Linked DNA regions of Homo sapiens: region 1 is linked to region 2. Evidence: fine-mapped expression QTL. A gene starts in region 2. The other region holds a variant in brackets. All regions are shown on one strand. Distances are from middle to middle.

Region 1 (16,041 bases), 80 kb before region 2:
CTTGCTATAAAAGGCATCCCTAAGCCTACTGGTCATAATATACCATTCCGAGATCTTCCATCCATTTGGATATTTTGATTTCTGGAGTCAGTACAAATTCACTTCCTGATGCCTCAAACTTATAGCTATTGTAACTGCCAGGGGCACAGAGCTCCCTCATTGTGTGGAATGGTTTTACCTCTTCCGTAGACAGGATGTCTATGACAAAGGGTGGAAGGTAGTGCCTGTCTACTGAGGCACATTGCCTGTTAAATGAGTGGTCTGTCTGTGCCTCACATTGTTACTTTTGATTTAAAGGTTAGTGCCTGGAGGATGCATCAGTTTTTCTGGGCAGATGAAAGTGAGGGTCCTGGTCAGGGATATTTCTTTGGTAATGAGCTCACATAGATGTCTCTCATCCTTTCTTAGATTTTGATTTTTCTATTTAATAATCAAAGACTGTTAAGCTCTATTGCTATGTAAGACAAAGGGTTCCAATTCACAAAACCACTCAGCAACCTCTGTCGAGTCTCTCCTCTAGTACTATTATTCCCCTCCAGTAATCAGCCAGCAATTGTTTTTCAAAAGCAGTACAATTCTCAGCTGCTAAAAGCATTCCTTAGTCAAAAATCCTAAATACTTATGCTGTATTTTCCCCTGTAGGATCTGCCCTCCTCCCTCCCTGACAAATCATCTTGGTGGAAGAGGTAGAAATCACAGAGACTTCAGGGTCTCATTTTTCTTTCTGACTTGTAGGACCCAAAGGATAGAATTGACCATACTGTGGCTTGTAACTTGCCAGGGTTAGTCACTGAGGCTTCTCTCAATCCTACTGAAAGTATGTAGCCTTTTGGAGGACTCAAGATATAGAGTGTGTGAAAATTCCAAGGTGAAGCATTTGCTGACTCTAACACCTCCCTCTGTTCTTTGTTGCAGTAGGAGGTGTTACATGTTTCACTACCTGTCCTGAGTTTAAGCACTACTATTCTAGGTAATCCCTGTCTGCTGGATTTCTGGTGGATGGTCTCTGAACCCAGTGGGACAGACTCATCCTCTTGGGTATGATGTGAAGAATGGCAGTGCCTTTGTCACTTTTGTTTTAGGGGATCTTGGCAACTTCATATAGTGGGGCACCTGGCAACTGAAAGAAGAAGGAAAACAAAGATGCAGAATGATACCATCTAAGGCACTATGATCTGATCTGTCTTTTTCAGAGATTTCCTTAAAGCGAAAGGAGCATCCAGCTGTTCTTGAATAGGTAGAGACAGAGGGCCACCCTTAAGCAGATCTTTGTTAGGCAGATATATTTCAGACAGCCCCAGGCCTGATGAAAGGTGTAGTGGATTTGTTTCTCCTTAGTACAGCCAACTCTTCCTCATAGTAGGCTGTGCTCTGGGGAGGGGATGGGCCAGTATATAAATGGAACCCTTGACAAACAGGATGGGTAATACCTTTTAGTTTTTTAAAGCAGTTGTTAGCTCAACTACCATAGTATTCCACTCATTTTTGCAAGACTCATTACATCTGGGCAACTATTGGTTTGTCTGTGTTCTACTGTGAGTCTTCAGGTTTTATTAACTTTTCCTACAGAGACTCTAATACTTTCACATAATTGGGGAAGCCATTTGCAGGAGCATCCTGGGTAATGGGATACTGTAATACTGATATTGATTAATCAAAGTTGTTATTAGTTTTCCAGAGCTACCAAAACAAAAAAAGTCACAAACTAGGTGGCTTAAAACAACAGAACTTTGCTGGGTGCAGTGGCTTACACCTGTAATCCTAGCACTTTGGGAGGCCAAGGCAGGTGGATCACTGGAGGTCAGGAGTTTGAGACCAGCCTGGCCAACATGGTGAAACCCTGTCTTGTCTTTACTACAAATACAAAAATTAGCCAAGTGTGATGGCGGGCACCTGTAGTCCCAGCTCATCAGGAGGCTGAGGCAGGAGAATCACTCAAACCCGGGAGGCAGACGTTGCAGTGAGCTGAGATCATGCCATTGCACTGCAGCCTGGGCGACAAGAGCAAGACTCTGTCTCAAAAACACCAACACCAATGCCAGAAACCCCATAAATTTATTCTGTCATGGTTGTGGAGGGCAGAAGCCTGAAATCAAGGTGTTGGCAGGGGCATGTTCCTTCTGAAGCTCCTAGGGAAGGATCCTCCCTTGCCTGTTTCGGTTTCTGGGGCATTCCTTGGTTTGTGGCAGCTAACTCCAATCTCTGCCTCTGTTGTCACATGGTGTTCTCCCTGTGTATCTCTTCCCTCTCTTATAAGGACACCAGTCATATTGGATTAAGGGCCTACTCTACTTCATTATGGCCTCATCTTAATTATATTTGCAAGATTATATTTCCAAGTAAGGTCATATTCATAGGCACCAGGGGTTAGGACTTAAATATATCTTTTTGGGGACACAAGCAACCTGCGACAATAAGTTTCCACTTTTCATGTCCATACCATGGGGTATGAGAGAGTAGATGCCAGCCACACCCCTAGTTTAGAGAATTTTTTTTTTTTTTTGAGACGGAATTTCACCCCTGTTGCCCAGGCTGGAGGGCAACGGCACAATCTCAGCTCACCACAACCTCTGCCTCCTGGGTTCAAGTAATTCTCCCATCTCAGCCTCCCGAGTAGCTGGGATTGCAGGCATGTGCCACCATCTCTGGCTAATTTTGTATTTTTAGTAGAGACGGGGTTTCTCCATGTTGGTCAGGCTGGTCTCAAACTCCCGACCTCAGGTGATCCGCCCACCCTGGCCTCCCAAAGTGCTGGGATGACAGGTGTGAGCCACCGCATCTGGCTAAGAATAGAAATTTTTAAGACCACTGCCTTAGAGGTGTTATAAAGTTTTTTAATTGGGAAGCCATCAGGCTGAGATGGCTCCACCACATTTGATTCCTACATAAGCAAACCAAAGCCCAATGTAAAAAGTAAAAGAAAACTAGGGACCTTACCAATCAGAAACCACCAACTAACCTCTAACTAGGGGAATTTCCATATTAATGAATCAAATATATTTTCTTTGTCTTACTTCCATGTTCAGCCTATAAAAGCTCACTGCCCACACTGCTGCAGCTGAGCTCTCTGAACCTCTTTTGGCCTTGAGTGCAGCCTAATTTATGAATTGTTCTTAGCTCAAATAAACCCTTTAAAATTTTAAGGTTCGTAAGTTTATTTTTGAACAGAGGGCATCATTCTGCATCTTTCTTTGTTTTCTTCTTTTCTTACCCTTTTTGGAAACTGCAATACAGTTCTTCCTTGGATACTTTATAATCAAGGTCACTCTACTACAATTTCTGTCAATCTCTGCATTATTGACTCAGGCATTCTTCTAGCTGGCCCCAAGTTATTTTTACTTACCTCATGGCTTCCATTTTCCACTATCAGCCAGTTCATATGGCTTTTAAACTTGAGGCTTTGGGGAGACTGGTAGAACCATCATTGGCTTTATTGTTAAGTTTAAGGTCCTCCTTGTTCCAGATATCCAGAGAGGGAGTTAGTGCTACAGGAGATGGAAAAAAATTAGGCAGATAGTGAGGGCAAAAGAGTCCTCAGCAGAATTTCCCTTTTAACAAAAATCAGCCCCCAAATCATTTCTTTTCTAACAAAGAACAGCCTGAAAAATCAAGCTGCAAACATAGATAAGCAAGCTGGAAGCCTGCAGGGGTGAATGCCAGCAGCTGTGTCAATAGAAAAGGGCTACCTGGGGGCCAGGTATGTTCAACATGGAGGCTCCATCTTCCCTTTTCTTTGTCACCACAGTTACAGTAAAGAAACAGGCAACATGGCACTGGCCAGGTAGAGAACCCATCTGCAAAATAAAAGATTAGGGTGGGGGTGGCCATCTTTTTGTGCCTATACAAATGGCATACCTAGCCCTAACCAGTTTTTTGAGCTGTATGCAAATGACACACCTGGTCCAACCAATCTTTTGTGCCCTATGTAAATGACACACTGCCTCCTTAAGGTCATCTATAAAATCCCTTGCATTCCACGGTGGAACCAGCAACCCATTTCTCTGGGACCCCTCTCTGCTGCAGAGAGCTCTTCTTTTTCTTTTGCCTATTCAACTTCTGCTCTGAACCTCTTTGTGTGTCCATGTCCTAGTTTTCCATAGCTGTGACACAACCAATCTCGGGTATTTACTCCAGACAACAATGCCACTTCATTACCAGGTTTTAAAAAAATATCTGTCTATGCTGGGCGCGGTGGCTCACGCCTGTAATCCCAGCACTTTGGGAGGCCAAGGTGGGCGGATCATGGGGTCAGGAGTTCAAGACCAGCCTGACCAACATGGTGAAATCCTGCCTCTACTAAAATTACAAAAATTAGCTGGGCGTGGTCACGCGTGCCTGTAATCCCAGCTACTCAGGAGGCTGAGGCAGGGGAATTGCTTGAACCTGGGAGGCGGAGGTTGCAGTGAGCCAAGATCGCGCGTTTGCACTCCAGCCTGGGTGACAGAGCGAGACTTGGTCTCAGGAAAAAAAAAAAAAATCTATCCAAATCTATCCAAGTATCTATGCAAGTACTTCTTACTTCCAAATGCACTGAATTTCCTTAGCCCCACTCATCAAAGCTGGTGATTCTTTCATAGGCTTCCTGTAATATTAATATCCATTCCCAGTAGTACCCAGATTTTTGTACAGATATCCACTTTTCCTCCCATACCACCCTAATACTCCTGGGGAAGCTGAATCTACTCTACTTCAGAATTGATCTAACTTGTCAAAAGCCAATTATTAGATTTCTTGTCAGTGATTGTTTAGGGAACATAGGCCTAAACCCATCAATGCATGTCATTTTTGTAGCCATAGAATTTGGATTTGGAAAAGCCATGTAACCCAGTGGAAGGCAAGTGTAAAAATTCTGGGAGGCTTCTGGGAAATAAATGTCCTAAATTTTAAGATGGTCCCCTTTTTTTTTTAAGATCTTGTGCAGAGTTGTGAGGCCTGGAATGAAGCTGACACCTGTGCGTATGTGGGCACATACACATGGGTAGGGGGTGTGTGGGGGACATGGGGGAGTGTGAGAGGTGCGGGATGGGGCTCATAGTTGAGCAGTGGAGAGAACTGTAGAAAACCAGATTTGGAGCTGTGAATGACTCACACTTAATCACCACTCTACCAATCCTCTTTTTCAATTATGTTTGAATTGAGTTTCCTGTTACTAAGTACTGTTTGAATTGAGTTTTTGTTCCCTCAGTCTGAAAGCATTTTAACTGGTACATCCCTGATGGATCTCTCTGGGTAAATGTAGTTTCACTGGAAGAGATGGTGATTCCCACCAGATTCCCAAGAGAGCTTATTTTCTCTTGTATTAAGCAGCAGGGGTCAGGCTTATGGCCTTGTATTTGTAGAAATCAGCCATCAGCTTAGCATCACCAGATTTCTGGCATTAGCTGCCCACGTCTGTGGCACTTCAGGCCCATGTAACTATTTCCAGAGTGACACAAGTTTCTTCCACAGTTGTCAACAAGTGGCCCTCACAGGTTCAGTGAGAAGAGGAAGAGGGAGAGAGATCATCAGGATTAATGGATTACTTGCATTTGTGAGACGGTTTGCCAAGTATTGCTACAAACAAGGCACGGGATTTTCTTTTTTCTTTTCTTTTTTTTTTGAGATGGAGTCTTGCTCTGTCCTCCAGGCTGTAGTGCAGTGGAGCAATCTTGGTTTACTGCATTCTCTGCCTCCCAGGTTCAAACGATTCTTCTGCCTCAGCCCTCCCGAGTAGCTGGGATTACAGGCGTGTGTCACAACGCCCTGCTAATTTTTGTATTTTTAGTAGAGACGGGGTTTTGCCATGTTGCCCAGGCTGGTCTGGAACTCCCTGCCTCACGTGATCCTCCCCCCTCGGCCTCCCAAAGTGGTGGGATTACAAGCATGAGCCACCGCGCCCGGCTAAGGCATGGGATGTTTCGAACTGCTGACATTAGAAATTCACAATCCACATCATTAACTGGATCCTCCATGCCCACTCTCTCCCTCTCTGCAGCAGCAATTTCAAATCTTTACTCTCCGCAGTTCCACAGAACACAAGAAACAAACAAACAAGCAAAAAAAGTCAGGCAGGAGCCCAAGTAACCTCTATCAAAGCAAAGACCAGTGCCTAGTCTAACGCTTTTAAGGATTTTAAAAGAGGTGAAGGTGTCCTGCTTATCCTCCAAGCTTGGGTGCTGGGGCCGGGGCGGCTGAGATTTACCAGTGAAACCCAAAGAAAGAGAGGGCAGAAAACTAGAGAAAAGAAACCAGATAATGCTACCCAAGAGGACGAAATAAAGAAGCAGGAAACGAAGCCTGAGGCTAAACCCTGGAGATGACTATTAGGAAAACACCAGAGGATGCCCCGCCCGCCAGCCCACAATGAGCAGCCTGTCCAAGTCACAAAGCGGGGCCTCGGGCCTTGACAGTTCGCGATCTGTAAGCAGAATGTTCCAGGGCCTCCCTGTCGCCTGCATCCAGCCTGGGGGCAATCTTCACTGGTGTGGGAGGCCGAAAGTGGACGGCGACGGAGGCCCCTCTGGTTATCTCTTTGCCGTGCCAACACAGTCTCTGCGCCCACTAAGATGCATGAAATAAAAATTTCCGTGACTCGCCCTTTGCAGTGGAGAACTGAAACAGGCACACCAGGGAATTGGAGCGGAGGAGGGTAACTCAAACTCAGAGTGAGAGGGTTTGCAGGGGGCCGATTTGGGGCCAACAGGCTTCCCAGCAGGCCCCCGGCGCGGGACAGCGGAAGGCGAAACGCTTTCAAGAGACCCCGCTGCCAACATCCCCACGCCCTCGCGCCCTCCCGCCGCCCCAGAAGGCCAACTCCGCCTGCCTGAGTCACAGCTGGAGCTGGGGAGGAGCCAGGGAAAGGAGGCCCCTGACCGTAGTGCGGCCAGCAGTTGCAGGCAGACGGAGCAGAGCGGTCAGGGATCATGAGGGAGAGTGCGTTGGAGCGGGGGCCTGTGCCCGAGGCGCCGGCGGGGGGTCCCGTGCACGCCGTGACGGTGGTGACCCTGCTGGAGAAGCTGGCCTCCATGCTGGAGACTCTGCGGGAGCGGCAGGGAGGCCTGGCTCGAAGGCAGGGAGGCCTGGCAGGGTCCGTGCGCCGCATCCAGAGCGGCCTGGGCGCTCTGAGTCGCAGCCACGACACCACCAGCAACACCTTGGCGCAGCTGCTGGCCAAGGCGGAGCGCGTGAGCTCGCACGCCAACGCCGCCCAAGAGCGCGCGGTGCGCCGCGCAGCCCAGGTGCAGCGGCTGGAGGCCAACCACGGGCTGCTGGTGGCGCGCGGGAAGCTCCACGTTCTGCTCTTCAAGGTCAGTGACCTCAAACGGTCCCCAATCCGAGGCCTTTGCCGGCCTGTGGGCCACCAGCTGGGGGCTCCCCGCTTCCATCCACCTACCACACCCACATTCCTGACCCCTCCCGCCGTCTGTTGCTGTGGAACAGACTCACAGAGCCGCACCCACTTCCCAAGACCCAGCCCCATCCCTCCCTCTCACGCCTGAGCCCCGCCTGGCCAATCCAAGCCCGCCCAGCTCTAGCTCAGGCCACGTCCGCAGAATTTGGTCTGAGTCCCAGCCAATCCCTAAAATAACGGTGGTTGAAAGGGCATTCCGTGACTGCGGGCACTATCCTCTTCTCGCCCCTCACCAGGCCTCACCTACTTTACAGCGTTTTGCAGTTCGCACGCAGCTTTCCCTCCCCTTACCTTCCCACGCCTGCCTTTCCCCCCAGACTCTGGCTGCGGAGGTAAAAGGTTTCCCTTGTGTAATTAAGGAGTGAGTTTCGGGCTGCTGGGGGTAAGGAGCTGCCAGGATCAGTGCTGTGTCCGTCACATGCAGGAGGAGGGTGAAGTCCCAGCCAGCGCTTTCCAGAAGGCACCAGAGCCCTTGGGCCCGGCGGACCAGTCCGAGCTGGGCCCAGAGCAGC[T/C]GGAGGCCGAAGTTGGAGAGAGCTCGGACGAGGAGCCGGTGGAGTCCAGGGCCCAGCGGCTGCGGCGCACCGGATTGCAGAAGGTACAGAGCCTCCGAAGGGCCCTTTCGGGCCGGAAAGGCCCTGCAGCGCCACCGCCCACCCCGGTCAAGCCGCCTCGCCTTGGGCCTGGCCGGAGCGCTGAAGCCCAGCCGGAAGCCCAGCCTGCGCTGGAGCCCACGCTGGAGCCAGAGCCTCCGCAGGACACCGAGGAAGATCCCGGGAGACCTGGGGCTGCCGAAGAAGCTCTGCTCCAAATGGAGAGTGTAGCCTGAGGGCTGGTGTTGCCTGCCTCCCCTGTGCTTGTGCCTTGTCCCAAAATAAATCCTTTCAGAATGTAGCACTCACGCCCTAATAAGGAGCGAATCCTACATCCACCAAGGCGGGCGCTCTGGCCCTCCCTTCCTTAAGCCCAGTCCTGTGTCCTCTGAAAGAGGTGCAGTCACTCACACCTGCTTGCGCTCACCATCAATAAAAGTAATTTCACCCGAACCAGACTCCGTGAGAAGGGATGGGGAAGCGGTTGGATGTGGGAAGGCAGTTACAAGGAATAAGACAAATGTTGGAACCTGGAATCGTACAATTTCTCCAGTTTCCACGGAGTCCTGGGTTCTAGCCTCCAGTGACACATAGAAATATCCTTCTGACCACTTGCTCTTTAAACACTTTCCTCATGGGAACACACAGTTGCAGTTTTTGTTGTTGTTGTTTTTGTGTGAGTGTGTGTGTGTGTTTTTTTTTTTAGCATCCAGTATAGTCCTTGCTGTAGGTGCTTACTCAGTGTCAACTAATGGTTTTCCTCTTAGTCTTTTCTTTCCTTGGCACCTCCTAAAAGTTGAGTTTTCCAGGATTCCTTTCTTGGCCCTCTTTTTACTCAGGGTACTTTTCGGTTGACATTCATGCCTAGGCCTCCCCTACCAGCTGCGTACACCCCATACCACTGTCTTGAGCCACAGTTGAAAAGTGCTTCAAAAGTAGCAAGTATCTTCTACCTTTTAAATTCCATTTCGTTCAACAGCTATTTATTGAACACCTACTATGTGGCAGGCCCTACTAGGTATGGTTCAGAATATTTCCCCCTCTTGTGTTTTCTTTACCAATGATGACAAAAAAAATCAATATACCATCATCCACAGAGAAACTTGGGAGTCCTTGTCGGCTCAAGGACTTTCTCTCATCCCCCTCCCACATGGAAACAGCTATTCTAATGATTTTACCTCTGCAATCTGTCCACTTTTCTAATACAGCCGCTGCCTTATTTCAGGCCTTTCACTTGACCGGTATTTGAACTGCCAATCTCATCACATCATTCTTGATTCAAATATTTCAGTGTCTCCCCATTATCTTCAGAATAAAGACCAAGCTCTTTATAATTATTTTCAAGGCCCTTTGTGATCTGGTCCCTGCCTATTTTTGTAGCCTCATCTCTCACCACTTCCCCTTGTGCTACCATTGAGTCACACTGAGCTCTGTGCTCTCACTGTCATCCCTGCTATCCTGCCAAACTCAGTAAAGCACACCTGTTTCAGGGCCAGGTATTTCTCTTCCTTCTCTCAAAGCACCACTTGCACACCTCTAGTGCTAACTGCACTGATTGTGAGGATTTGTGGTTACGCCCCCTCCGATCTACTAGATTGTGACTCTCTTGCAGTAGGGACAGTTTTATTAATTTCTGTATTTCCCACACCAAATACTGTGTCTGGCACACGGTAGACCTTCTTGAGGGGCTGAGGAGAGTTCCCTGCTGCAGTAAAGCAAGAATATTACAGAAGGGGCTGGGCACGGTGGCTCATGCCTGTAATCTTAGCACTTTGGGAGGCCAAGGTGGGTGGAGGACTTGACCTTGGGAGCTCAAATCCAGCCTTGGCAAAATGATGAAACCCCATTTCTACAAAAATTACAAAAATTAGCTGGATGTGGTGGCTTGTGCCTGTAGTCCCAGCTACTTGGGGGGCTGAGGTGGGAGGATCACTTGAGCTCAGGAGGCAGGGGTTGCAGTAAGCCAAGATCATGCCACCGCCCTCCAGCCTGGGTGACAGAATGAGACCATGTTTCAAAAAAAAAAAAAAAGGAAAAACAAAAAACTGGAAGTGGGAGTGGTGGTTAAGGATGAGGAGCACAGTCACCTACTCCTTCATTCAGTCACTATCATATAACAACGTTTTTAATACCTACTTTGTTCCAGGCCCTATGCTAGGTCTCATGAACACCTTGGGGAGCTCGGGATTTAGAGGGAGATACCATCACCAATTGTAATGAATGATGGTTACATGTAAGTTATTTTGAGAGCAAATGGGGAAGGGGCATGACCCAACCTGAAGGAGGAAAAGTGGGAGATATATAAGGAATTGTTCTTGGAAATGGTAAATAGTGAGATGGAAAACAGGAATGGCAAGGGGCAGTAGAGCTCAGCGGTGGGTAGTTTGGGTTCTCTGTTCCCTTATCTATAAAATGAGATAATTATAGCCCCTTACTTAGATTGTTGGAAAGATTAAGTGACATAAATCAAGTGCCCAGCACATTGCCGGAGTATAGTTTTTGCTCCATAAGCTTCAGGTATATAATTTATTTGTCCACTCATTCAACAAATAACTTACTGAACTCTTAGGGTCTTCCAGGTGCTATTTTAAAATCTGAGAATACTGCCAGGCGTGGTGGCTCACATCTGTAATCCCAGCCCTTTGGGAGGCTGAGGCGGGCAGATCGCTTGACTCCAGGAGTTTGAGACCAGCCTGGCCAACGTGGCGAAACCCCGTCTGTACTAAAAATACCCAAAAAGTTAGCCAGATGTGGTGGTGCACACTTGTAGTCCCAGCTACTTGGGAGGCTGAGGCACCAGAATTGCTTAAGTCTAGGGGGCAGAGGCTGCAGATTGCACCACTGCACTCCACCCTGGGCAACAGGGCGACAGTCTGTCTCAAAAAATAAAATAATAACAAATAAAGTAAATAAAATAAAATCTGAGGATACAGTGGCACATAAGAAAGAGAAGATCCATACCTCTATAGAGTTAAATTCCAGTAGGAAGAGACAGGTAATAAATAAGTAAACATGTAAGCCAGATAAAACAAGTAAGCACATGAACCACAAGGGCATTCTGGTTATGAGCTCTGAAGAAAAAGAAAACAGACTAAGGATACAGATAAGGTTTGTGGGGGTGTTCTTTAGATAAGGACACTGGGGAGTAATATTGGGACCAGAGTTACACGTATGAATTACTCCTTGACACTTGAGTTTGAGTGGTGTCACATTTTTATTTTCATGGATTCAATAAGAAGAGTTTAAGCCCCCACATGCCTGCCATGCTGTTGGGAAGTTGATGATTAGCAATTTTAGTTATCTTCCCGTTTTCGAGACTGTGCAGTACCAGGGGGCTCATACCATCTCTCAGCCTTTGCATGTCTCTGCTGCCCTTGCTCCTTATGACCACACGATGTCAGTGTCGGGGAGCCAGTGTCCTCGTTGGTGCCTCCTCTAATTACCCGGAGGTCAGCCTGACCGGCAATATATTGGGGACAGTTAGGGTAGAGGAGGTGTAGCGGGCAGGGGTCCTTCCATGGAAGGCGGCTCTGCAGTAGCTCCATTTGGTCTGGGGAAATTCAACCCTTCTCCTGCAGGCTCCCAACCCTGGTGCTCAGACTGTGCCCCTTTCAAGGTTTGGCCGTCTCAATGGGACTGGTATGAGCAGACTCAGTTCTCTGTCCCCAAGGAAAAATAAATTCTTGTTTTTTCAAATTCCTGGAAATCTACTTGATTTTCCCCTTTCAACCCACAATTAGAATTAAGAACTAAGTGTGCATTTTCCGTATAAAACATCTTGACCCCTAGAAACCCAAAGGCTTGACTAATTTTGCAAGGGAAGGGTATATTAATGTTTATTTCTTCCTGAGTTGTCTATAGCAGCAAATAATAAGATCAAGTTAAAACAAAATTAGTTAAATTTCTTCATAGCTCATTTTGTTATATTATGTTCTCCATTATCACTGCTGGTTGTTATTATTAATATTGTTAAACATTAATGGCCAGGTGCAGTGGTTCATGCCTGTAATCCTAGCCTTTTGGGAGGCTGATGTGAGTGGATAGCTTGAGGCCAGGAGTTCAAGACCATCCTGGGTAACATGGTGAAACCCTGTCTCTACAAAAAAGTTTAAAAAAAAATTAGTTGGGCATGGGGGCACACCTGTAGTCCTAGCTACTTGGGAGGCTGAGGTGGGAAGATTGCTTGAGCCCAGGATTTTAAGGTTGCAGTGAGTTATGATCATGGCACTATACTCCAGCCTGGGTGACAGAATGAGACCTTGCCTTTAAAAAAGTAAAATAAAGGAAGTGGAGACAATGACAGAATACCAACTTGTCATCCAGCACATGTGGCATTTAGCAGCTATTTAAGCAGACGGAAGGTACATTAGTGGATCATTAACATTCACTTTGGCTTTCAACTTTTCAGGCCAGAAACACAAATTTATCTTGCATTCCAGCAAGATTAGGCTGATCTGCAATAACTGCACTCAGAAAACACTGATTAATTTGATTGCTGGATTCATTAATTTCCCGAAGAAATCTAATGGCCAAGTGACTGGAATAGTCTAGCTAGCTATTCAAAACATTTTTCATCCTTCAACAAAGTCTACATGGGAAGCCAAAGTAAGATCTTAAACTAGGTATAATGCAATAGAATAGTAGAAACTGGATAAAGATAATGGGCAGGATAATCTAACATAATATGCCCACTTTCTGCTTTGACATGCCTCTTACATGGGCAAAAATATATACATTCCTGGCAGGAAACTTCTTCCCTAGTTAAGAACTAGACGTCCTTTTGATTTTCCTTTATTGTGAGCAGAGGAATCATATAACCTCAGCATTGAAGAGAACGCGAATGCTGTCTATTCCACAAGCATTTCCAACACTAAAGTGTTCTGTACTGTCTTGACATCTATCCTTGTGGTTTCAGATATTTCTTAGTTTCATCAAAGGCAGACAGAGTTTGCATTCATGGTCTCTTTTCTATTTTAGAATTATTTTTAACATGATGGTGGAAAGCACAGTCTTTATTCAGTCATTTTAAAACAAGAGTCCAACAATCATCCCCTACCCCCGGTCCTGTGAGATTGAGCTTAATTATTCTGATAGTTATTTTCTTTAATCCATAACCTGTGTCTTAAGCATGGACATTTTGTTAGGAAGTCTGGTTTATTAGAGAAGATAGGTTTGAGATGATCCCCTATTATGAGTCATATTGTTTCTGGACTTCTATAGATCTTCCTCTCTCCAACACAGAATGAAGACAGAGCAGTCCAACCCAATTTAAACAACTCCTTTTATTTCACAGAGACTCATGGACTAGACCATTCTAAAGTAATGTGGATTATTAAATGTAGCATTAATTTTATGATATCATTATTACTTCCTGTATTCTTTATGTATTTACATGCCTGGTTTATTCTGATTTCTTTACCCACTTTCCCCAACAGTCTACCTGTTTTGCCCTAACCTTTAGATATCTCTAAATCTGGCTAGTCAAAATGTATTTTAATACTCTTAAACTTAAAAAAAATTACAAATGTACCCTTCTTATGTTTGCATACCATTTGAAATTGTTAACATCTGTGTTGACCAACTCTCCGAATGTTTGATTCAGTTAACTTGATCATTATTCCATAATTTTGTAAAGCTAATTTGAAAGATACATATCTTACTTTTTAGTATGATTTCCCTTCTCCTACCTTTCATTTTTAGAATAGTTATGAATTCATGGCTCTTTTTAAAGACTGAATTGGTATCAATTGCTGGCTGGTAGGTTTTCTCCTGATGCTTACCTGTCACTTCTTGGTATATGGGAGCTCTTTTCAACGTGTTTTTTTTTTTTTTTTGCTATGATTTGAGTGTGTCTCCAAAAATTCATGTGTTGGAAATGTAGTCCCCATTGCAACAGTTTTGGGAGGGAAATGAGGCCTAATGGGAGTTGTTTAGGTCATGAGAACTCTGACCTGTCAACCTAAATAACAAATGGAGAGGAAGACTCTCTAGAAGAAAATGATGTTTATTTGGGAATAGGCGTTACAATGGGAATGTGTATGTCTTCCACAGTAAATTATGTATATATTCAGGAGGTAAAGGAAGACAAAGGTTTTTAAAGGAAAAATGAGGAGGATTATATAATTGTTCTGAGATAATTATTGTTGACTACAAGGATTAATAACAAAGGTGGTGCCAGTCCAAGATTGGACAGAGAGTTGCTAGGCAGATGTCCTCTCAGAAGCATTATTATTATTATTATTTTTGAGATGGAGTTTCGCTCTTTTGCCCAGACTGGAGTGCAATGGTGTGATCTCAGCTCATCGCAACCTCTGCCTCCTGGGTTCAAGCAATTCTTCTGCCTCAGCCTCCTGAGTAGCTGAGATTACAGGCACGCATCACCATGCCCGGCTAATTTTGTATTTTTAGTAGAGATGGGGTTTCTCCATGTTGGTCAGGCTGGTCTCGAACTCCCGACCTCAGATGATCTGCCTGCCTCGGCCTCCCAAAGTGCTGGGATTACAGGCATGAGCCACCGCGCCCGGCCAGAAGCATTTTTTTTTATGTGTAAAGTTGTGATGGCTTTTGTGCAGGCTGTGGTTTTGCAAAGTCTTTTGTGATATCAAGAATTCGTGCACAAGAATCCCTCCTTCATACCCTTCCTCAGCTCTATTTGTCAGGGTTTTTAACACAAGTGACTCCATTTTGATTTTGACAATTTTCATAGCCCTCATGAATGGATTAATGCTGCTATAAAAAGTGCTTGTGGGAGTGGGTTTACCCCTTTCTGCCTTCCACCATGTGAGGACATAACAAGAAAGTCCTCACTAGATGACAGAACTTTGATCTTGGACTTTATAGACTCCAGAACTGTGAGAAACAAATTTCTGTTCTTTATAAAGTACTGAATCTCAGGTATTCTGTTATAGCAGCACAAAACAGACTAAGCTTTTTTGTCTTTTTTTTTTCTTAAATACTTGAATCATCTATGGAGGTATTCTTGTTTTCTTGTTACAACAGTCTATTCCATACTTATCTTGATTTTCTAGTATGTGGCCCAAGTTATCTGGTGATACCTTCTGTGGCAAACCAGCATAAGACCCAAGTCTGATTATTGAGTAGATTATTTCCCATGCTTCCACTGCGGGCAGGGTGACATCAACAGCTGCTTCAAATGTTCTTATGACAATCAGAGTCTTTTAGAATCATGAGTTTATTCTGATTTTTTTTTTTCTTCTTAATCGAGACAGAGTCTCACTCTGTTGTCCAGGCTGGAGTGCAGTGGCACAATTTTGGCTCACTGCAACCTCCGCCTCCCAGGTTCAAGAGATTCTCCTGCCTCAGCCTCCCAGGTAGCTGGGATTACAGGTGCATACCAGGACGCCCAGCTAATTTTTGTATTTTTAGTAGAGACTAAGTTTTGCCATATTGGCTGGTCTTGAACTCCTGACCTCAAGTGATCTGCCTGCTTGGGTCTCCCAAAATGTTGGGATTACAGCTGTGAACCACCGCGACCAGCCTTATTCTGATGTTTTTAACTTCAAATTCTTCCTTACTTTAACTCTTTCAAGTTATTTTTCTTTTTTCAAAGCAACTATTGTTTACTCTAATACAACATCCTTTCACAATCTTTGATAAGCCAATATTATTCTCAGATCAAACCATTTGCTTATTATATTCTTGTTTAAAACATTAGAAACTTGTTATTTCTTTTTAAAAACATAATTTTACTTTATCCAAGCATATTACAAAAGAATACCCATTTTGGGCTTTAGGGAGAACTGATATATTCTATAACATGGTAAAAATGCATAAGAATGCATGGGTATAGCAAATATTGTGTGTAGTATAATAAATATGTATTATGTTCCCTCCTCCTATTGTTTAAGCAACTTAAAATTGATTTTATAGAATATAGATCCAAACAGGGTTTCAGCATCATCTGAACATAACAAAAATCTCTCTGAAAATTAAAGGAAAATATAACCTCATCCAGGGTAATACTCTTTGCATAGGTTAAAATATGCCTTTTCCATATTCCCAAATGCATTTTTTATAATAATTTGCATGATTATATAAGCC
Region 2 (8,000 bases):
CTGCCCAAATCTCATGTGAAATGTAATCCCCAATGTTGGGGGTGGGACCTGGTGGGAGGTGATTGGATTATGGGGGCGAATCCTTCATGGCTTGATGCTGTCTTTGAGTTAGTGAGTCGAGAGCTGGTTGTTTTGGTTGTTTGAAAGTGTGGCACCTCCCCCAACCCTTGCTCCTGCTTTCACCGTGTGACATGCCTGCTCCCCCTTTGCCTTCTGCCACAATTATAAGCTTCTTGAAGCCTCCCTAGAAGCTGAGCAAATGCCAGCACCATGCTTCCCGTAAATCCTGAAGAACTGTGAGCCAATTAAACCTCTTTTCTTTATAAATTATCCAGTCTCACATATTTCTTTATAGAAATGCAAGAACAGTCTCATACACCTGAACTGAGTAGGAGGTAACTAGGGGGAGGAGGGGGACAAGTGGGGATAGGGCAATCTAGCCAGAGGAAGGAGCAGGAACAGAGGGAAGGGGGTAGAAAAGAGTCAGTTGGATGCAGAAAATAGTAAGCAGTTCAGAGTGCGAGAAGCGCAGAGTGTGGGGAGGGTGGAGAGAGGGGAGATCTAGGTCACACTGGGTCTCATAAGCCATGACATGAAGTTCAGGCCTTATGCTGAGGGCAGTAGGAAACTATTGAAGTATTTTAAGCAGGGAGCTGTATGATATCCTTTGCAGTTTAGAAAGATGTTGGTGGAGAATGGGTGGGGAGATAGGTGAGGCTGAATGCTGCAAAGTCTTAGAGCTAGAAGGACCTTGGACAAGGGAAAGGGAGCTACTATTTGTTGAACACTTGCTGTATGCCAAGCACTGCGCTGGATGCCTCACTCACATAGCTCATTTATTCTCACAAATAACTCATTGGGTTTTTATTATTGTCCTCATTGGATAGGTGATTAAACTGAGGCCTAAATAGGGAAATGACTTGTCCAAAGTCAAACAGACAGCATCCTACCACATACAGGATGTGGAGCTTGAGGGGATCATTGGAGGACAGATGTGAGGCTTTCAGAATCCCTGAGGGTAGAATCCTCATGCTGAGAGAGCCAGAGCACATCCAGCTTCTCGGTCCATGACAGTGTGCTTACCCCATTTGCAGGATTTCCTGCTTGCACGACCTCATGCCTAATACCTGTGATTAGGCATAACAATTCCTACTGCACAGGGCTGATGAGAGGAAAAAGCAAGCCAGTAGGTAGTACCTGGCTTGGCCTAGAGGTGATGGTCAGTAAATGGGAACTTCTTCTCTTCTACCTTTCTCTTTCCACTTGGCTGTAAAAAGGTTGTTTTTTCCACTCATCCCACATGTGTATACCTGTGCGACGTTGGGCAAATTACCCAACTTCTTTGAGTTTGATTTCCTTATCTTTAAAATTGGGATAAGAATAGTACTTATCTTATAGAACTGCTGCGGGAATGTAATGAGTTAATATCATGTGAAGCACTTAGAAAAGGGGATGCAGTAAGCAGGTAATAAATATTAGCTATTATTATTATTATTATCTCTATCACTGTCCACTAGTCTATTGGTGCTTCAGGTGAATATCCACAGAGCAAGTCTACTCTCTCTTCCACGAACCCACCCTGTTCACTGGCCTTGGCTCAGCTTCTTCTCAGGGAATGGATCCTCTATGTGTTGTTTTTCTCCTGAGCCATCTAGTGACTCAGAGAAGGGCCAGGTTTCCTCAATCAGAAGTTTAGGCCTGAAGTACTATCTGGTCCCAGCACTGGGCTCTGCTGTTCCCCCCTACCCCACCCATCCTTGTCCCTGGAACAAATACTGGGATACCCACCTTTGATGTTGATGATGCTGATCTCCCCAAAGTAGAGCCCTGCACCGAGCACAGCATACTGTGTGATACCATCATCTGCCACCACGGCCAGTTGACCCTCTCGGATGATGTACATCTCTTGGCCAATGTCTCCTTTGCGGCATACATATTCACCTGGTGAGTAGGTCTGGGGCTGCAGCTTCAGCACCAGCTCCTCCAGCAGGCTGGCCTCACAGTTCTGAAAGATCTGCACCCGGCTCAGAGTGGACAGGTGCACAGACACAGCCACTTCTGCCCGCAGCCGCTCAGGCAAGTGCTGTAAGATGGCTACCTCGTTGGTCATCTTCTTGTTGATCTGCAGGTGCTGATACCTGAGAGTAAGGACAGTGCCATTTCCTTACCAGCCCTTTATGTGCCTGCCTCCATCCCTTCCTTCAGGGCTCAGCTCAGCTCCAGCCAAGAATCCCACCATACTGAGATCTAACAGGGGTCATGGGAGTACCTGACAGTTGGATTACCTGTTTTCCAGGGCATAGACACCTCTACCACTTTACATAACCCTTCACCTCCTATCAGGCTCTACCCTACCCACCAATCAGTGATGTCTTGTTCCACCCCTACCCTTAGCTACCTCAGCCACCAAGGGCCCCTCCTCTCTGGGGACCCTCTGCTCTACTTCCCCAACTTTGTGACACTTCCTTTTGTTCAGTCCACAGTATGAATCACCATAGGTAGCCAATGATCTTGTTGCTGACCATTCTCAGGGGGGATTGCCCTTCTTCACCCACTCCTTCCAGAGCCTTCTGAGCCCTACCAGGCAGTGGCACTTCCCATTCCCTGGTCTCCATATTATCCTTTTTTGAGTATGAGCTCCTCTCCCTATCAGTCTCTTACCTACCCCTCCCCCAAGTCCTGATTCCCTCAGTTGAAAGAAGTTCCCTTTTTCCAAGCCCCAGCCAGCAAACCCACGGCTGAATGCTACATTTTGACAGCCTTGCCTGGCTCACCAGGCACTAAGGACCCAGTTACCTCCCTCAGGTTCCATCACCTACACTGGTCCCTGTCCTGGTCTGGAACCCCGCCTTCTCACCAGTCAATAACTCGCCGCTCCAGCTTGCGGTTGACGTGCTGCAGCTTCATGTACTTCTTCACCAGTGCATGATCTGGGTAGAAAGCCGCATCTGCAGTGTTCATGTTGTAGATGACAGAGCTCATGCTACCCATGATGGTGGCGAAACCCATGACGGCCAGCAGGAAGTCGCCCACCATGAAGAGGTACTCTTCTTCCCTGGCTGGCGGCGGTGTATCGCCCACTGTAGTCAGTATCAGCGTGGAGAAGTAAAAGCTATAGAGGTACTGGCGCCGCAGGCGCTCAAAGCCAGGCTGCGCGGGGTCCGGGTACACCCATGCGTCACGCCCGAAGCCCAGGTACCGGGATAGGGCAAAGTATAGGCAGCTGTTCCAATGGATGACGACAAAAATGTAAAGCATCAGCTTGGCAATGCGAAAGGCATTTGGGTAAGCTGTGCGGGTCTCTGTGCGGTCGAAGGCCTCGAAGAGGCGGGGCGCGCGGAGAAAGCGGTTCAGCCTCAGGGTGGGTGTGTGCGGGCCCAGCCGCACGTAGACCACATCTGTGGGCATCAGGGAAGCCAGGTCCAAGAAGAAACTCCAGGTGCGAACGTAGCGACTCGAGATCCTACCCTTGTCCACCACCAGGATGCCCTGTTCCAAGAATCCTGGGGAGAGGGAGCCGGTAGGAAGCGGACCTGCTGTAGTCAAGCTTGGGCTGAGCATGAGCTGCCCAGGGCAGGCCAGGGAGACTGTCTGAAGGACAGAGTGGAGCCAGGCATAACTCTGCTCCCGGCTTTCCGGGGTGAGCACTGGGATGCTGTCAGGCATAGAGGCACGCGAAGGTGCTACCACGGTGGGGGTGCCTTTCTTGTTACTTCTTAAGTGGCTATCTTTAGGAAGGGAATGTGGGACAAAGGGTCATTCCTAGAAGCCCACTGACCTGTGTGGAAGCGCACCACCATGTCTAGTAGGTATAGCAGGTCACTCGTGTAGTCCAGCACCAACCAGGCCACCAGATAACCGTGCTGCAAGTCGGGGAAGCAGGCTCTGCAGGGCAGGGTTAAGCATGATTGAATTAAGGGCACCCTCTGTGTGCGAGGCGTCTCCCCAGGGCCCTTAACCCTCTGCCTCAGGCCCTCCCATGGGAATTGCTCCTCCTGCCCCACCAAGGGTCTGCCCTTCTCCTTGACCTCTCTTTAGTCCTCTTTTTGGCTTCCAGCCCCTCCCTTAGCACCGCTGCCATACCTGCACACGAGGATGATGAGGTTATACATGACTGGGAAGACCATTGTGTTCAGCCACCAGTAGTAGTAATCCCCAGATGGGTCCAGGACAGGCAGCAACTTCCTGTAAGAAAGAAAGTCTTGCTTCATTTATTCACCAGGCATTCAAAGCTGTAGTTGTGACTGGGGCACCAAGAGGAATGAGGAGAGATCCCACACAAGGGACCAGGACTTCTCACCTGGCCTTGGATGGGGCTGGGGGACTGGACTCTGTTGTCTTCACTTTGGTGTCCTGGCTCATGGTTCTGTGGTCTGGTGCTGGGGTGTGAGATGTCCACACCCTCTCTGCCTGTAGGGGACTTCTGGAGTTGGGCACTAGTGCCTGACTGCCTGAAGGAGGCTGCTGTTGGGCTTCTGCTGTGACTTCTTTGTCTTTGGGGCTCTTAGCAACACAACCAGAGCTAGCGCTACTGAAGGGGTGGAGACAGTCTAGCTCTAGCACTCTGCCCTGTCTCCCAGGGCCTGGGCTTACACCTGCCCAGCTAAACACCTCTAATGAGATCCCTGGAGAAGGTGGGGGTGCATGCCTCAGAGGGAAGCCTGAGTCTTGTCTCTGTTTTCCTCCTCCCCTCTTTCCACAGCAACTGAGCTACATAGGTGTCCTCTGGGTCAGAAGACCTCAGTTTTAGTGTAGGATCAAACACTCTGTTTTATCTTTGCAAATTCTATTTGGGCCTCACTATTTATTTATTTAACAACTATTACTGAATGGCTTATCTATGTCAGGTGCTAAACTATTCTCCAGGGACAAAGAGATGCCTCTCACATGAGAAGTGAGCTCTATTTTTGTAACCTACTTCCTACCCTTATCTACCTCCACATACGCCTTCCCCCATCACACCATTCTCATAGGTAGTGTGATAGGGGCCATCCTATGGTGCTTTTGTCCTCATATCCTTCTTGTGACTTCTAGTGCCTGATCCTACCAACCATTCCATGTGTTTTATGGTCCCCAATCTTTCAACTTTTCTCTTTTTGTGAACCTGCTTCAATATCTCCTATATCAAAACAAACAAAAACCCTACAATTTCTCCCTCAACCTGATGTTCCTTTCACTGCTATCATCTTTCTCAGTCAACAAATCAAAATCAGAACACCCATAGGCAGGTGTTCTGTGTGCCAGGCCAATATTGTGCTAAATACTAGGAATTGGAGATGAATAAGACACGCTCCCCCTTCTCCAGAAGCTCACAGTCTGCTAGGTGAAATAGTCAGGCCAGCAGGTAATTACACATGAGGTAACTAAACAGCAGCAGTCATTGCCAGGCTGCTGATGAGTACTCTGTTAGCTGGATACACGGAAGGCTATTATAGTACACATGAAGTGGCCCTACAGAGCCTGGGTTCTGCAGGATGAATAGGAGTTGGGTACAGAGATGGGAGGGTGAAGAGCACTAGAGGCAGAATGCACAGAGTGGGCAAAGGCATAGAGATATCAAAAAGCGTGGGTGACTGGGCAAATATCAATTGGCTTATTTTAGAGGGCCTAGCGGGTAGTGGTGAGAGATGAGGTTGAATGATAGACAGAGGCCAGCTCAGGAGGAGTTCTGTCAGCCATGTTATAAAGCTTGGATTTTACCCAACGGCAATAGAGAACCTGTGAAGAGTTTTTCACAGTTCAGTGATAAAATCAGGTTTGTGTTTTTGGAGTGTGTTTTAGAAGAAAAACCTGTGGTCCCTAATTAAATTTTGAAAAACTCTCTTTTCCCATGGCTTCTTAATTTCTTTTTGCAAAGTATTACGCTTGTTAAAATAAAAAGACAACATTCAAAGTAATGCAACAAAATGAATAAAATCCTTTGTAATGCCATAATGTCTTGGTTTGCTGTTTCTTTTTAGTGTCTTTCATAAGCTCCTCTGTCTATTCCTTCTATGATGGTGTTTTTTTTTTTTCTTGGATTCTGTTCTAGGCTTTCTACTTTTGCCATCCTCCTAACTCTGTCTGATTGACGTCAGTCACCCACAGGACTTCCTTTCTCATATAGTGGCTCCCGAGAACTCTCCCTGAGTTTCAGTTATCTATATGACTAACTGCTCACTGGATGTTCCTACTTGGGTATCCCGCGGTCACCTTCAACCCATTGGGTCTATAACTAAGCTCATTATCTTCCTCCACTTTTTCTTCTAGAATTCCTATCTATGCCCTTTCAGCAAAAAAACCTATGACAAGCATTTATTACTATTTACTGTATAATGTTGTGGCAGTTAAAAAAAATGGTCACAAATTCTTCGACACCACTCCCTTGTGATAGTTTGTATAGCAGGAGTGATGTTGTGTGACTTCTAAGGCTAGATCATAAAAGGCCATGCAGCTTCCCTCTGGTTCTCTTGGAATGCGTGTTGTCTGGTAGCTCCCTCTCAGAATGTTCCCTCTTGGAACCTACCCATCACATTGTGAGAAGTTCTGTTTGACAGTTTGCCCAATGAGTTCAGCTTTTTCATTATCCCAGCCCAGGAATTAGATGTGTGACTGAAGAAGCCTCCAGATGCTTCCAGCCACCAGCCTCAAACCACCTCTAGATGTTCAAGCTTTACAAATAAGGCCCCAGACATCATGGAATAGAGACAAGCCATTCCTGTTGCATCTCGTCCAAATTCCCAGAATTTGTGCACATAATAAAATGGCTATTGTTTTTATGACACTAAGTTTGGGTTGGTTTGTCACATAGCATAGTAACCAGAACAAACAAACACAGAGAAAGGTGTACAATCCTTAAGTATATAGCTTAATACATTTTCACAAAGTGAACACACCCATATAACCAAGCACTCAGATCAAGAAACAGAACATCACCAGTGCCTCAGGAGCCCCACTCTGCCCCTTTCAGTCAATGTTTTTCCAAGAATAATCACTATCCTGAATTCTAATATCACAGTTTAGTTTTACCTGTTTTTGAATTTATATAAACTAAGCATTAGTTTTTAATTCTTCCTCTTATTTTCCTCTTATATCCACCCAATCATCAAACCATGGTGATCTACCTTCTAAAAATCCACATGTCCACTTCTCTGCATTTTTGCTACTCTAGTTTGGGCCTTATCAGCTTGTTTGGTCTTTTGCAAAGTTACTGTATAACTATCAATCTATGTATAAAATTCTTTATAGCTATCATCCCAAAAATAAAATCTAAATTCCTTAACATGGTTTATAAAGTTCTCCAGTCCATGTCTTCAGCCTCATCTCACAATGTTTCCTCACATGTTCCCTAGGCTCCCGACACACTGTACTGATTGCAGTTCTTACAGCACCTCCCACATGCTGTCCATTCTTCCTTTCCCTGGTATATGCTGATCCTTTGGTCTGAAACTTCTATTTCTTTTTAAATACTTTTTATTTGAACTAATTTTAGGCTTACAGAAAAGTTGCAAAAATAATACAGAGTTCTCATAAATTCCTTATCCATCTTCCCCTAACGTTATGATCTTACATAACTATAGCACAATGATAAAAACCAGGTATTTAACATTGGCAAAATACTTTTCTTTTTTTCTTTTCTTTTTTTTTTTTTGAGACGGAGTCTCGCCCTGTCGCCCAGGCTGGAATGCAGTGGTGCGATCTCGGCTAACTGCAACCTCCGCCTCCCGGGTTCAAGCGATTCTCCTGCCCCAGCCTCCCAAGCAGCTGGGATTACAGGCGCGCGCCACTACGCCCAGTTAATTTTTGTATTTGTAGTAGGGACGGGGTTTCACTATGTTGGTCAGGCTGGTCTCGAACTCTTGACCTCGTGATCCGCCCGCCTCGGCCTCTCAAAGTGCTGGGATTACAGGCGTGAGCCACCGCGCCCAGCCGGTAAAGTACTTTTAAAACTACATGCCTTATCTGAAACTTCTATTTTTCTATTTTAGTTTATCTTACTCTTGCTTGTTTCCCAAGACTCG

The links. PIP is the estimated chance that this variant, and not a neighbour inherited with it, causes the effect.
Region 1: its variant is fine-mapped to the expression of CNGA4 in tibial artery (GTEx, PIP 0.97).

What each region holds. Positions count from the first base shown.
Region 1 is chr11:6,311,338-6,327,378 of GRCh38, reverse strand. It overlaps CAVIN3 (caveolae associated protein 3), which reads left to right and starts at 6,878. Exons shown (of 2, transcript NM_145040.3): 1 at 6,878-7,286; 2 at 7,815-8,433. The coding sequence starts at 6,903. The coding sequence ends at 8,216. LOC101927825 (a long non-coding RNA gene) reads right to left here and starts at 8,238. Exons shown (of 7, transcript XR_930998.4): 1 at 7,682-8,238; 2 at 3,687-3,794; 3 at 3,344-3,485. RefSeq lists enhancers at 6,112-6,201, 6,232-6,291, 6,302-6,661, 6,872-6,921, 7,465-8,202. The variant T/C (reference allele first, on the strand shown) is at 7,903.
Region 2 is chr11:6,235,569-6,243,568 of GRCh38, reverse strand. CNGA4 (cyclic nucleotide gated channel subunit alpha 4) reads right to left here and starts at 4,480. Exons shown (of 6, transcript NM_001037329.4): 1 at 4,301-4,480; 2 at 4,084-4,185; 3 at 3,779-3,885; 4 at 2,858-3,503; 5 at 1,789-2,138. The coding sequence starts at 4,362. RefSeq lists an enhancer at 7,996-8,000.